Homo sapiens: one gene and its partners. The protein of the gene in region 3 purifies or fractionates together with the protein of the main gene of each other region. This does not show direct contact. Each region holds a gene or a part of one and is shown on either strand. Other genes may lie near its edges.

What was found.
Region 1: the proteins of IL22RA2 (region 3) and THUMPD3 purify together in Homo sapiens (co-immunoprecipitation; one large-scale study listed by IntAct). This does not show direct contact.
Region 2: the proteins of IL22RA2 (region 3) and UPP1 purify together in Homo sapiens (co-immunoprecipitation; one large-scale study listed by IntAct). This does not show direct contact.

What each region holds. Positions count from the first base shown.
Region 1 is NC_000003.12:9,383,552-9,387,205, reverse strand, and holds the end of THUMPD3 (tRNA (guanine(6)-N(2))-methyltransferase THUMP3), read right to left. Parts: intron 2,995-3,654; coding exon 2,871-2,994; intron 2,683-2,870; coding exon 2,518-2,682; coding exon of another isoform or gene 2,474-2,517; 3' UTR 415-2,473; downstream 1-414. UniProt on the Homo sapiens protein: Catalytic subunit of the THUMPD3-TRM112 methyltransferase complex, that specifically mediates the S-adenosyl-L-methionine-dependent N(2)-methylation of guanosine nucleotide at position 6 (m2G6) in tRNAs.
Region 2 is NC_000007.14:48,095,742-48,099,395, reverse strand, and holds part of UPP1 (uridine phosphorylase 1), read right to left. Parts: intron 1-3,654. UniProt on the Homo sapiens protein: Catalyzes the reversible phosphorylytic cleavage of uridine to uracil and ribose-1-phosphate which can then be utilized as carbon and energy sources or in the rescue of pyrimidine bases for nucleotide synthesis.
Region 3 is NC_000006.12:137,153,069-137,156,722, forward strand, and holds part of IL22RA2 (interleukin-22 receptor subunit alpha-2 isoform 1 precursor), read right to left. Parts: intron 2,052-3,654; coding exon 1,873-2,051; intron 1-1,872. UniProt on the Homo sapiens protein: Isoform 2 is a receptor for IL22. Binds to IL22, prevents interaction with the functional IL-22R complex and blocks the activity of IL22 (in vitro). May play an important role as an IL22 antagonist in the regulation of inflammatory responses.

The DNA of each region.
Region 1 (3,654 bases), on a different chromosome or scaffold from region 3:
TATTAGAAAAGGCTATGCTTGAGAATAAGGATATCTTTTTTCTATGCCTATGTTGTTAATGAGTATGAAGCACTTACAGGCTTTTATGTACTTGAGGTTCCAAAGACATTTCCAAATTTTCCCATTTTCAGTCTTCAACTTAACATTTTGGTCCTTGCAGTGGAGACCTGAGTCCTATCTGACATTGGGACTACAGTTAGGGCAGAATTTCCTAAACTGCCATTTTTTAAAGAAATAAGGGTAACCAAATGTTCCCCTTAAAAGCACTCTGGTACCCTCTAGTATTGGGAGATAACTATCTTCCCCTAATTAGATTTGTAAAATCTTTCTCAATATTTATTTACATTTTTTTCCCCTCAAATATATTGACTTTTTCATTCCCAGTAACAATATGTCTGGTCTGTAACTAAGTCATTCCATGTTCAGATTACAGATTTATTTCCCCATCTTTTCACATTCTTTTAGTCCAGGAGACCCACTTTGAAGGTTAAAACCAAGGTCACACAATGAATAGGTGGCAGTGTCACATATAACTCAGCTCCAGGCCTTATGAATCCTGCTTATAGCCCACTGCCTATTCTAGTCACCAGATTGAAAAACACCATACTAGGGAAGAAGACGGCAAACTATTGCCCACTACATATTTGTATCAGTCTTGTCAAATTTTTATTGTAGTATGTAATAGAATTAAAGCTATGATGAATCAAGTAAAAAATGATTTCCTTAAAAACTAAGCTAATAGGCGAAAATACTCGCTTGTTCAACAAATACCCAGTCTGGCAGATACAATACCCTGCCCTTAGTGGGGGGTGGAGTGGGGGGTGGGGGGGTGGGGAAAGACATCGTGGTGAAAACAGACATGGTCCTTGAACTTCCTGGTTCTGTGGGTTGCTTAATTTGAGGTTTAAATGGTTTCTCCCATCAGGTGAAAAGTTTTGTGTTCGGCCCATAAACAAAGCAGCTGTGAATTCTGATAGTGGTAAAAAGGCCAGTCTAGGATATAAAACCTTCATAAACATCTTATTTCCCATTCATTATGAAGTGTGGGGTAGGAGATCAGAGAAACCAGATGAGGATTGCTGGCTGTGCTGCTAATGTGAACTCTTCTTTCAAAAGTATTGTGTCCTTTTATTCTCAATGGAGACATCAGAAAGTATTAAGAGGAGTACTATTATAATACTAATAGGATACTGAAAATCTATACTGATTGCAGCCAGAGGCTCCAAAATAAACAATACTATGATGAGTTCCACAAAAAAACCTCAACTACTCTTTGTTCCAGGGAAGCACCATTTTCCACAAAACTCTCAAGAAGGACTTGTTGCAACTGGAAAAGCAATTAAATGTGAATCGTGATCCAGGAGAAAGTAACAACTCACATAACTCCCAAATTAAAAGTTTTCCAAAGATATATCATTTTTTTTCTCTTGGCCTTTTAAGAAACTAGCCAACAAATACTCTTGACAGGTTTGTGTTTGGTTTTGAAAACACACACCTTAGTGTACTGAAAGAAAAACAATTTCTTTTAATTTGGTTTGTTGGTCCCACACCCCATCTATCAATGTATGTGCTATTTACAAATAAGTTCTATACAGTATTTTTGCAGTACCTTTGATAATTCCTAGACCTCTATTTTCATTCTGTGTATTAATGTGAATAACAGATGGATATTTTAATATTTAAGGCAGATGGTAAACTTTCCTATAGGTCTTGTGAGACTTCGTCTTATAGGCTGAACACCATTCACAAAATGTAATAATGCTTCATTCCTTCAGGTTGAGGTAAAGAACTTGAGCAACTGGATTAGCAAAGCTGCAAAGAATGAAATGTGGCCTAAGATGTAATTATGTTCTCTGCCCTTCCTTTGGGCCAGGGTAGTTTTGCACTTGACACAATGGAAAATAGGCCATAAAGCCTGAAAATAAAATGTTCTAAACCCCAATCTCACAGCACTTTAGTAGGCTTTTCACTAGGCATCTTTAAAGTATTTTCAACAAAATACTAATTAAGCTACCACTTCAAAAGAGCTTCAAGGAAAAGCTCTGCTTTCTTATAAAATCTTTTTGAGACAGAGTTTCGCTCTTGTCGCACAGGCTGGAGTGCAATGGCGTGATCTCGACTCACCGCAACCTCCGCCTGCTGGGTTCAAGTGATTCTCTAGCCTCAGCCTCCTGAGTAGTTGGGATTACAGGCGCCCGCCACCACACCTGGCTAATTTTTGTATTTCTAGTAGAGACAGGGTTTCACCATGTTGGCCAGGCTGGTCTCCGGACCTCAGGTGATCTGCACACTTCGGCTTCCTAAACTGCTGGAATTACAGTCGTGAGCCACTGTGCCTGGTCTCATAAAACTTTTAAATTCCATCACATTACATTCACACCTTTTGCTAACCAGGATGAAGAGCCTTAAACAGGTTTAAAGAGTGCAGACTGCAGTTTTGTTAATACTTTTTTCCTCTCCAAGTTCTTTTATGCTAACATTTCCAGTGGTGGGAAGTACAAGTACTATTAGTCATCTTCATTCTTTGCATTGCCAAAGAGTTCCTCTTTCTCCGTCTTGTTCTGAAGGATGAACAAAAGCTTGAGGTGTACGTATCAGAACGTAAACTGCAGCACGAAGACCACCAACGTTCACCCAGACTGTATCCACCTTTCGCCATACGTGTCGCATTCCAGATAACGCCTGTGTACACACAAAAAAAATAACAATTAGGTTGACAATCTACTTTTACATCAACTAGGATTCTTAACTGCCAAGATAGGAAACCTCAGGGGAAGAGAAAACAAATCTTATCCAAACAAACATCCCCAAATCTCAAAAAGATCCCAAAGTTGCCACAGGCTGCGATTTTGAGCTAATGTGTATAGCACCTTGGTAAAGCATTTTGTGTCTTGAGTAAGTAGTACAGCTCGGCCTGTGGTAGGTGTGCAGACACGGCTCATCTCCCGTAGGCAAGCTGGATAAAGGTTCCAGTTTCTCTTCTTGGATCCCATCCTATAATAGAAGGTCTCATGAGTCAAACACTTGCAAAAGATACAAAATAGAAGGACTATATGAAACAAAAACAGTTTCATGCATCCTGAGGCATGAAAAATAGCTGTAGTTTTAGAAACCAGACCTTTGCCATTACATGTCTATGAAATAAGTTGAGTTAGTAAACTGCTTAGAATTCTGAATCAAAAAAATTTTTTTTAGACAACTGTGTTAGTTATATGACTTGTCCTCTTAGTATAATAAGCAGTCAAACTGTATAAACCAAACAAGTGATTAGAAATCATTTAGGCCAGGTGTTTTGGTGGCTCATGCCTGTAATCCCAGCAGTTTGGGAGGCTGAGGCGGGCAGATCACCTGAAGTCAGGAGTTTGAGACCAGCCTGGCCAATATGGTGAAACCCTGTCTTTTAAAAATACAAAAATAAGCTGGGCATGATGGCATGTGCCTGAAATCCGAGCTACTCAGGAGGGTGAGGCAGGAGAATCGCTTGAACCCGGGAGGCAGAGGTTACAGTGAGCCGAGATCATACCACTGCACTCCAGCCTGGGCAACAGAGCAGGGCTCTGTCTCCAAAAAAAAAAAAAGAATCATTTATGCTGAGAAACAGAATGAGAACCAAGTCTTCTACCACCTTTTTGTGTAGGATATATAATTCAAGAA
Region 2 (3,654 bases), on a different chromosome or scaffold from region 3:
GAAATGTTTGATCTACCCATACAAGGAGTAGGGAGTATAGCCAGTTGCTCCTCTAATCAAGTTCATTCGATGTATAAACTTGAATTTATTTTAAAACTACTATGTTTACCATAGGAAATATGAACAGAAATAGAAGGAAAAACAACCTCTAATCCTACCTCCCAGAGATAACCTTTCCAATCTGCATACCTTCAATTTGTTTTTGTTTTTGTTACACTAGCTACCACTTCTCCAGCACGATATCCAATAGGAGTGACAAGATAAGACATCTGTTTATCTGCTAGAAAATGTGCTCGTGGCACATGCTGGTCTAGAGCAAGCATCAGCAAACTTTTCTTCATAAAAGGCCAGATAATAAATACATGTGGTTTTGCAGGCTGCATGATTTCTGCTACTTCTCAAGTCCACCGTAGACATGTGAAAGCAACTACAGATAGCACACAAATGAGTGAGTGTGTCTGTGTTCCAATAAAACCTTCCTTACAAAACAAATGCCCCAGGTCTAGATGAGTCCCTCAAGCCTGTCGAAGTCCCTTAGAGCCAGCCTCAAACGTAGCTCCTTCAACAATGTATGCCTTCTGAGTCCTAGAGATGGGTGGGCTCCCTTACAGGAAACAGAGGCAGACATGGGATGCTGATGTCAGAGCAATTGGGGACTTCTTTTTCTTCCTTCTGAGTCTGACTTTCTGCCCTGAACCCCGTGGTCATGTCTCCTCCTCATTCTAACTCATGAGAAAAGAAAAAGACACAAGAGAGGCAAGGTCTCAGCTGCCACGGATTTGGAAATAACTGTTAAATAAGGGATGCACCCCCCTCACAGACATTGTCCATTCTCTCCCCACACGATGCTTGTTACACCTTATCTATATTTTAACACTGGTATACATAATTAATGTAATAACTTTACCTCCAGAACAAAAATTTCTGGAGGCCATGACCACGTCTTATATATCTCTGAATCCCACGTAACACACCACAGACAAGAAAAACAAGGTTGAGATGGTCCCATCCTATTTTATCTATCATTTTATCAAATCCCTATTTCTATCTGGCACTCATCAACAGCAGACACCCAGGCTCCAAACACACAGATGGCCTATACCTGACTGCTTCCTCCTTTCATGACTGTCAAATGTTCCTTCCCATCAATTCCCCTAGAGTGGGGCCCAGGTGAGCTCACACCTGAACATTTCAGAAAGGCTGATATAGAAAACATAAGTACAAAGGGTTATACACAGAGACAGGGAGATCTTTGTATAAGGGGACAGGGGGCTAGGTGACTGTCTCCTGTATGGGCAGGCAGGGACTCTGCTGACTGCACTAGTGAATCTGCTGAAAACCCTGCTCAGGAAGGCACAGCAGCCTGCCTGAAGCACAGAGCCACACCCGCCTGCCCCTAAGCCCACCTCTTCCTGACAAGCTATTGGGGGGATCTCCAGAATCAGGGTTCATTCTACTCTGGGATGTGGGGCAAGGCCATTTTTCAAGCGACCAAATCCAGAATCACGTGTGGTAAGGACCATCCTTGAACTTTTCTCAGAAAACCTTTTTGATCTCTAGGCCAATCTGAAATTCTGACGATCTGCACACCCCACAGTATTTTAGGATCCTTTAGTGACAACTATTTTTCATGTAAGTAACATTTCCATTCTCCTCCTTCAGGATGTTAGAAATACACAGAGTACAACATAGAAGGGCTAAGAGTCATGCTTCAAAATAACAAAACAGGATGTGATTAAGACAACTTTGTCACATATTTCAAAATAAAATACTTGTCTTTTCTCCTTGATTCTGAGAAATGAAGAAGAAGGAAGTAGGGTGTAACCGTGAAGACAGGCAATTATTTTAAAACATGAAAATTTGGCCGGGTACAGTGGCTCACTCCTGTAATCCCAGTACTTTAGGAGGCCAACGCAGGTGGATCACTTGAGCCCAGGAATTCGAGACTAGCCAGGGCAACATGGTGAAACCCTGACTCTACAGAAAATGTAAAAATTAGCCAGGCATGGTGGCATGCACCTATAGTCCCACCTCCCTGGGAGGCTGATGTGGGAGGATCACCTGAGCCCAGGAGGTTGAGGCTGCAGTGAGCCCTGATCACACCACTGCACTCCAGCCTAGGTAACAGAGTAAGACTGTCTAAAAATAAAAAATAAAGTAAAATTTAAAAAGTAAATTTAACATGTACCATAATGAACCAGTAGATGCCCCAATTTATTTTTTGAAGGATTTTAAAATAACAAGTCAGAGACATACTACCTGGAAAAAAATATTTCTCTAGTCTACACATAATTTCAAGTGACTTTATTCTGCTTTATTCTACCACTTTATTCATCTAGCAAATATTCATTGAGCATCTACCATGTAAAAGAAATATATGAAATGAAATGAAAACTGTCTGGGCGCGGTGGCTCATGCCTGTAATCCCAGCAATTTGGGAGGCTGAGGCGGGCAGATCACTTGAGCCCAGGAGTTTGAGATCAGCTTGGACAACACAGTGAAACCCTGTCTCTGTGAAAAATACAAAAATTAGCTGGGTGTGGTGGTGCATGCCTGTAGTCCCAGCTACTCAGGAGGCTGAAGTGAGAGGATCACTTGAGCCCAGGAGGCAGAGGTTGCAGTGAGCTGAGATCACACCTCGGCACTCCAGCCTAGGTAAAAGGGCGAAACCCTGTCTCAATAAAAGACAAAAAGGAAAAAAAAGAAAGCAATGAAAACTGGCTTCTGATTCCAGGAGTTTATCAGCAGGGAAGAGAAAGCAGTATCAACCTTTATATAAACTTGCCCAAATAGCTTAGGACCAGCACATGTGGAGACAAGAAGAAAATGAGATGGGTGAGACACAGGGGCCTGAGGTACTGGGGAAGGGGAAGTGGGAGGGCTCCAGAAAATGCTGGCTGCATCTCGCAACAGCCAAGCATCCTGTGCTGGGTGTACTGAACATAAAGATGAGTAAGATCCAGTTCCACTCATGGAAGGCTTTCGACTTGGGGTAGAAATGAAGTTATTAATAGCTAGCACATATCAATTCATTTAATACTCTCAGTATAAACTAAGTACCATCAGTAACCCCATTCAAAGTCCAAGGTCACATCCTTCCTAAGAGGCTGTACTCCTGAGCTCTACACCTGACTGCCTTTCAGCAAGTGGAACATGATTAGCAGATAGCTGAGGATAAAACAAGGGAGGGTAAAATAATTACTGAAGAGAGGGAAGGGGAGGAAACCCTCACTGAGTTGCTTGGCACTTGGTGTGCCGGCCCTGTTTTCTCCAGCCTTCATTTCTACCACTCCCCTCCACCCCCACCAGCCTCCTACTAGGCCTCAACCTCAAGCCATGGCAGGAGGAGGAAGGAGGGGAGCTCCAGAAACTGGGGACAAGGCATTTTTGGCTGTCAATGACTGAAAATACCAGGAATACTATTAGTTCAATTAAAAAATAATCACTGAGGCAGGCCACAGTGGCTCACGCCCGTAATCCCAGCACTTTGGGAGACTGAGGCGGGTGGATCACTTGAGGTCAGGAGTTTGAGACCAGCCTGGCCAACATGGTGAAACCCCATCTCTACTAAAAATACAAAATTAGCCAAGTGTGCTGGCTTGCACCTGTAATCCCAGCTACCTGGGAGGCCGAGGCACCAGAATTGCTTGAAAC
Region 3 (3,654 bases):
TTGTTTATAGATTTTTATTTACTGCTTCAATGCTTTTATTAGCAGACCCCTAACCACTCCTGGGACCACACATACACCCATAGATGTAGTCAATGCCTTGTTCATGAGCATAGTACTCCACAATACATTGCTTATGACAAAGAACTTAAGTTAATGTGAAAGGAGTGAAGCAAGGTCTCAAGACCCATAGGACAAATATATATCATATATTTGTCGCTCAGAAATCCATGACTTTATAGGAAGGTGAAATGGATAATTGAAAACTCAGTTTGAGAGACGTCTTGTGAATTGGCATATGAATTGGTAAATGCTCCAATTGGTAAATGCTTCACTAAGCCTAGGGCCAATATATGGTGCTATTTCTTCCACAGACAGAATTCACTGGTCTAGGATACAAGAAGTAGAAGTGGGAGGGGCAACTCTGACTGTTACCCATAGTGAACAACTTATGACATGTTTTTGTTTCCCATATGCTTGGCCTTGAATTCTTCTGGTTTATAACAAAAATGGTTTCCAAAAATTGGAAGTCGAGGCTCTCTCCTGACCATTTGGAGCGCCTCATGCCATTTAACTAACAAAAAGAAAATGAGGTTCTTATATTGTCTAGGGTGATTCATTCTGATTTTCAAGGCATAATATAGTTATAAATACAATGGGGTCAGGTGGAAGAATTCTTGGTATCCTCTGGTGTGCCTCTTAGAGCTTCTCTATTCAGTGATAAAAATTAATGTAAGGTTAGGTCAAGCGGAGACAGGAAACACCAAAAGGACTCAAACTCCTCGTGGATAAAGAGCTGAAGTGCTGGCTGGAAAGAAAGTGAATGTTGAGTTTATAATGAAGGAAGAAGTCATAAATATTAACTACAGCTTCATGACTAGTTGACTTGTTGCAATTATGAGGACTGTGGTAAATATCTTTTTTTTTTCTTGTTCTATTTATGCACATCTTTATATCTATACATTAAACCCCTTCTCTCTCTCTCTCTACTATTTTATCCAATGTCTGTTGGTAATGGTTAATTTTAACACCTATGTCTTAGATTATATTATTCTATGGTTGTGACTAAACTAAAAAAGGAATAAATATCCTTCAGGATGGATACTGAGAAAGCACTTTTGGTCTGCCTTTTTGGGGAGGTGACTAAAAGTCTTAATTTCCTCAACAGAAAATTCCTGTAATCAGTATTTTCATGAACTTAACCCTCGTGTTTGGGGAAGGACTAGGCACTATGACAAATTCTGCTGTCTAAAAATACTTTTTTAGGGGCTGGGCATGGTGGCTCACACCCATAATCCCAGCACTTTGGGAGGCCAAAGGGGGCAGATCACCTGAGGTCAGGAGTTTGAAACCAGCCTGGCCAATATGATGAAACCCCGTCTCTACTAAAAATACAAAAATTAGCCAAGGGTGGTGGCACACACTTGTAATCCTAGCTACTCGGGAGGCAGAGGCCGGAGAATCGCTTGAACCCGGGATGCAGAGGTTGCAGTGAGCCAAGATCGTGCCACTGCACTCCAGCCTGGGTGACAAAGCGAGACCCTGTCACACACAAACACACACACACACACACACACACAAGGTGACAAATTGATGGAGTGGAGGCTCTGCAGTCAGATATAGCAAATTTGAACCCTGACTTGGATAATACAGATTGCGAGATTGGAGCAATGACTAAAGCCTCTACATCTTGATGTTCTGGACTAGAAAATTAGGATAATAAAAGCTATCTCCTAGAGTTGTTCTGACAATTAGACCAAAAGAGATAATGATGTAGAGACCTCAGCAAAGCACAAGGCCTAGTCACTAGCCGTGCTCCGGGAGGGCTGTCCAAAAGCAGGAAGAACAAGGGCAAAGAAACTCCATGGAACTCACTTTCCCACCAGGGAGTGAACCGCGGCGTCATGCTCCATTCTGAGTAGCTCCCAGCCGAGGCCGCCCTCACCCTCCCGTAATAAGGTTCCTGTATGTCTGAGGTTTCACTGGTAAGGTCACAAGAGAGTTCTTGAGTACCCCAACAGTCTTCTTTATTTTTCCATTGTCTCTGTCCATATCTGTAGCAGGGAAAAGGCAAAGATCTGAGTTTCTTTTCTCCACTCAAGGAGTCTTCAGTATTTTCAGACTAATAATTTTTTATACCTGATTCTAGTAGCAATACCACCATGATAGCTTATGGCTCCTCTTCAGAATCTTTAAAAAAATTCCTTCTTATTAACTGTTTCAGTCCATTTTCTGTTGCTATAACTGAATACCCGAGACTGGGTAATTTATAAAGAAAAGGAATTTATTTCTTACAGTTTTGGAGGCTAGGAAGTCTAATGTCTAAGAGCCATAAGAGCCACATCTGGTGAGGGCCTTCTTGCTGGTGGGGACTCTCTGCAGAGACTTAAGGTGACAGAGGACTTCACAGGGATTCAAGAGAGATGGCATATACATATATATACATATATATATAAAATATAAAATATATATAAAACAGACCAACTTTTTTGATAACTAGCCCACTTCCTCAATAACACATTAATTCGTTAATCCATCAATGGATGAATCCATTCATGGGGGCAGAATCCTCATGACCCAATCATCTCCCCAAAGTCCCACCTCTCAACATTGCTGCACTGGGGATCAGGTTTCCAACACATGAACTTTTGGGGGACACATAGAAACCACAGCATTACCTAAAGTGCTGTCTTGCTGGAAGATAAACATCCCTGACGCTTTCTGTATCACTAACATAAGGGTTTTAACCTTTTTTTTAATACTTGGCAAAATGTTCTTTCTGGTGTGTGGACTGACTTCCATTTTTGAATACTCACTCTCCACATCCTTAATGCTCTGTGGTTTTGGCTGTTTGTGGTTTTTCTCCACTTCTCATCAGCTTGCTGTTGAGTAATGTGGCTGCTTCTGAGAAGTTGCTACCACTTTTCATCTCAGGTGTTGCCTACCCAACATACATGATTAATCTCTTTATTGAAAATTGACGGGAACTTTTATTGAGGACTATATATGGAGCCCTGTAATTAGGGGTTGGGAGAGGGGGAGGGAATCCCATGAAAAAAGGTAGTGAGGCAAGAGGCAGAGTGGTTGACTCAGCCTGAGGCCACAGGATGGTGTAATAGTCAAAGGGAAGATTCACGCTTTGTTTCCTTACCTGCCATAAATCAGACCAATGTAACAAAGTGATGGTGGGGAAAAGAGAAGGAATTGGAGTCTGGGGAGAAAGGTTTCCCAAAATATTTATTGAAAGACTTGAAATCTAGCTTTCTAGACACATAATAAGGAAGATAGACGGTATCTATACTCGGTAATCTACATGGTGACAGCAGTTTCATTCCATCACAATTAAAGCAGAACCACAACATATATTGAGTATAATTTGATGTTTTAAAATTATTATTTATTTATAATAAGTCTTGAACTTAGCTGTAATGACAGACTTCTCTTTTAAAATAATATCTCATTGTTTATCCTATTCTAAACGCAAGGGATATAACAGTATTATAGCCCATGAACTGGATACACCAAAGTGAAAGTTTTCAAAATTATAAATTTGTCTTGTGCTGTTGAAAATCCCTTAGAGACAGGAATGGATTCAGGTATTCTGGGGTCTGAAATTTATACAATCTTGGTCCATTTAATGTTTCTATAACAGAACAC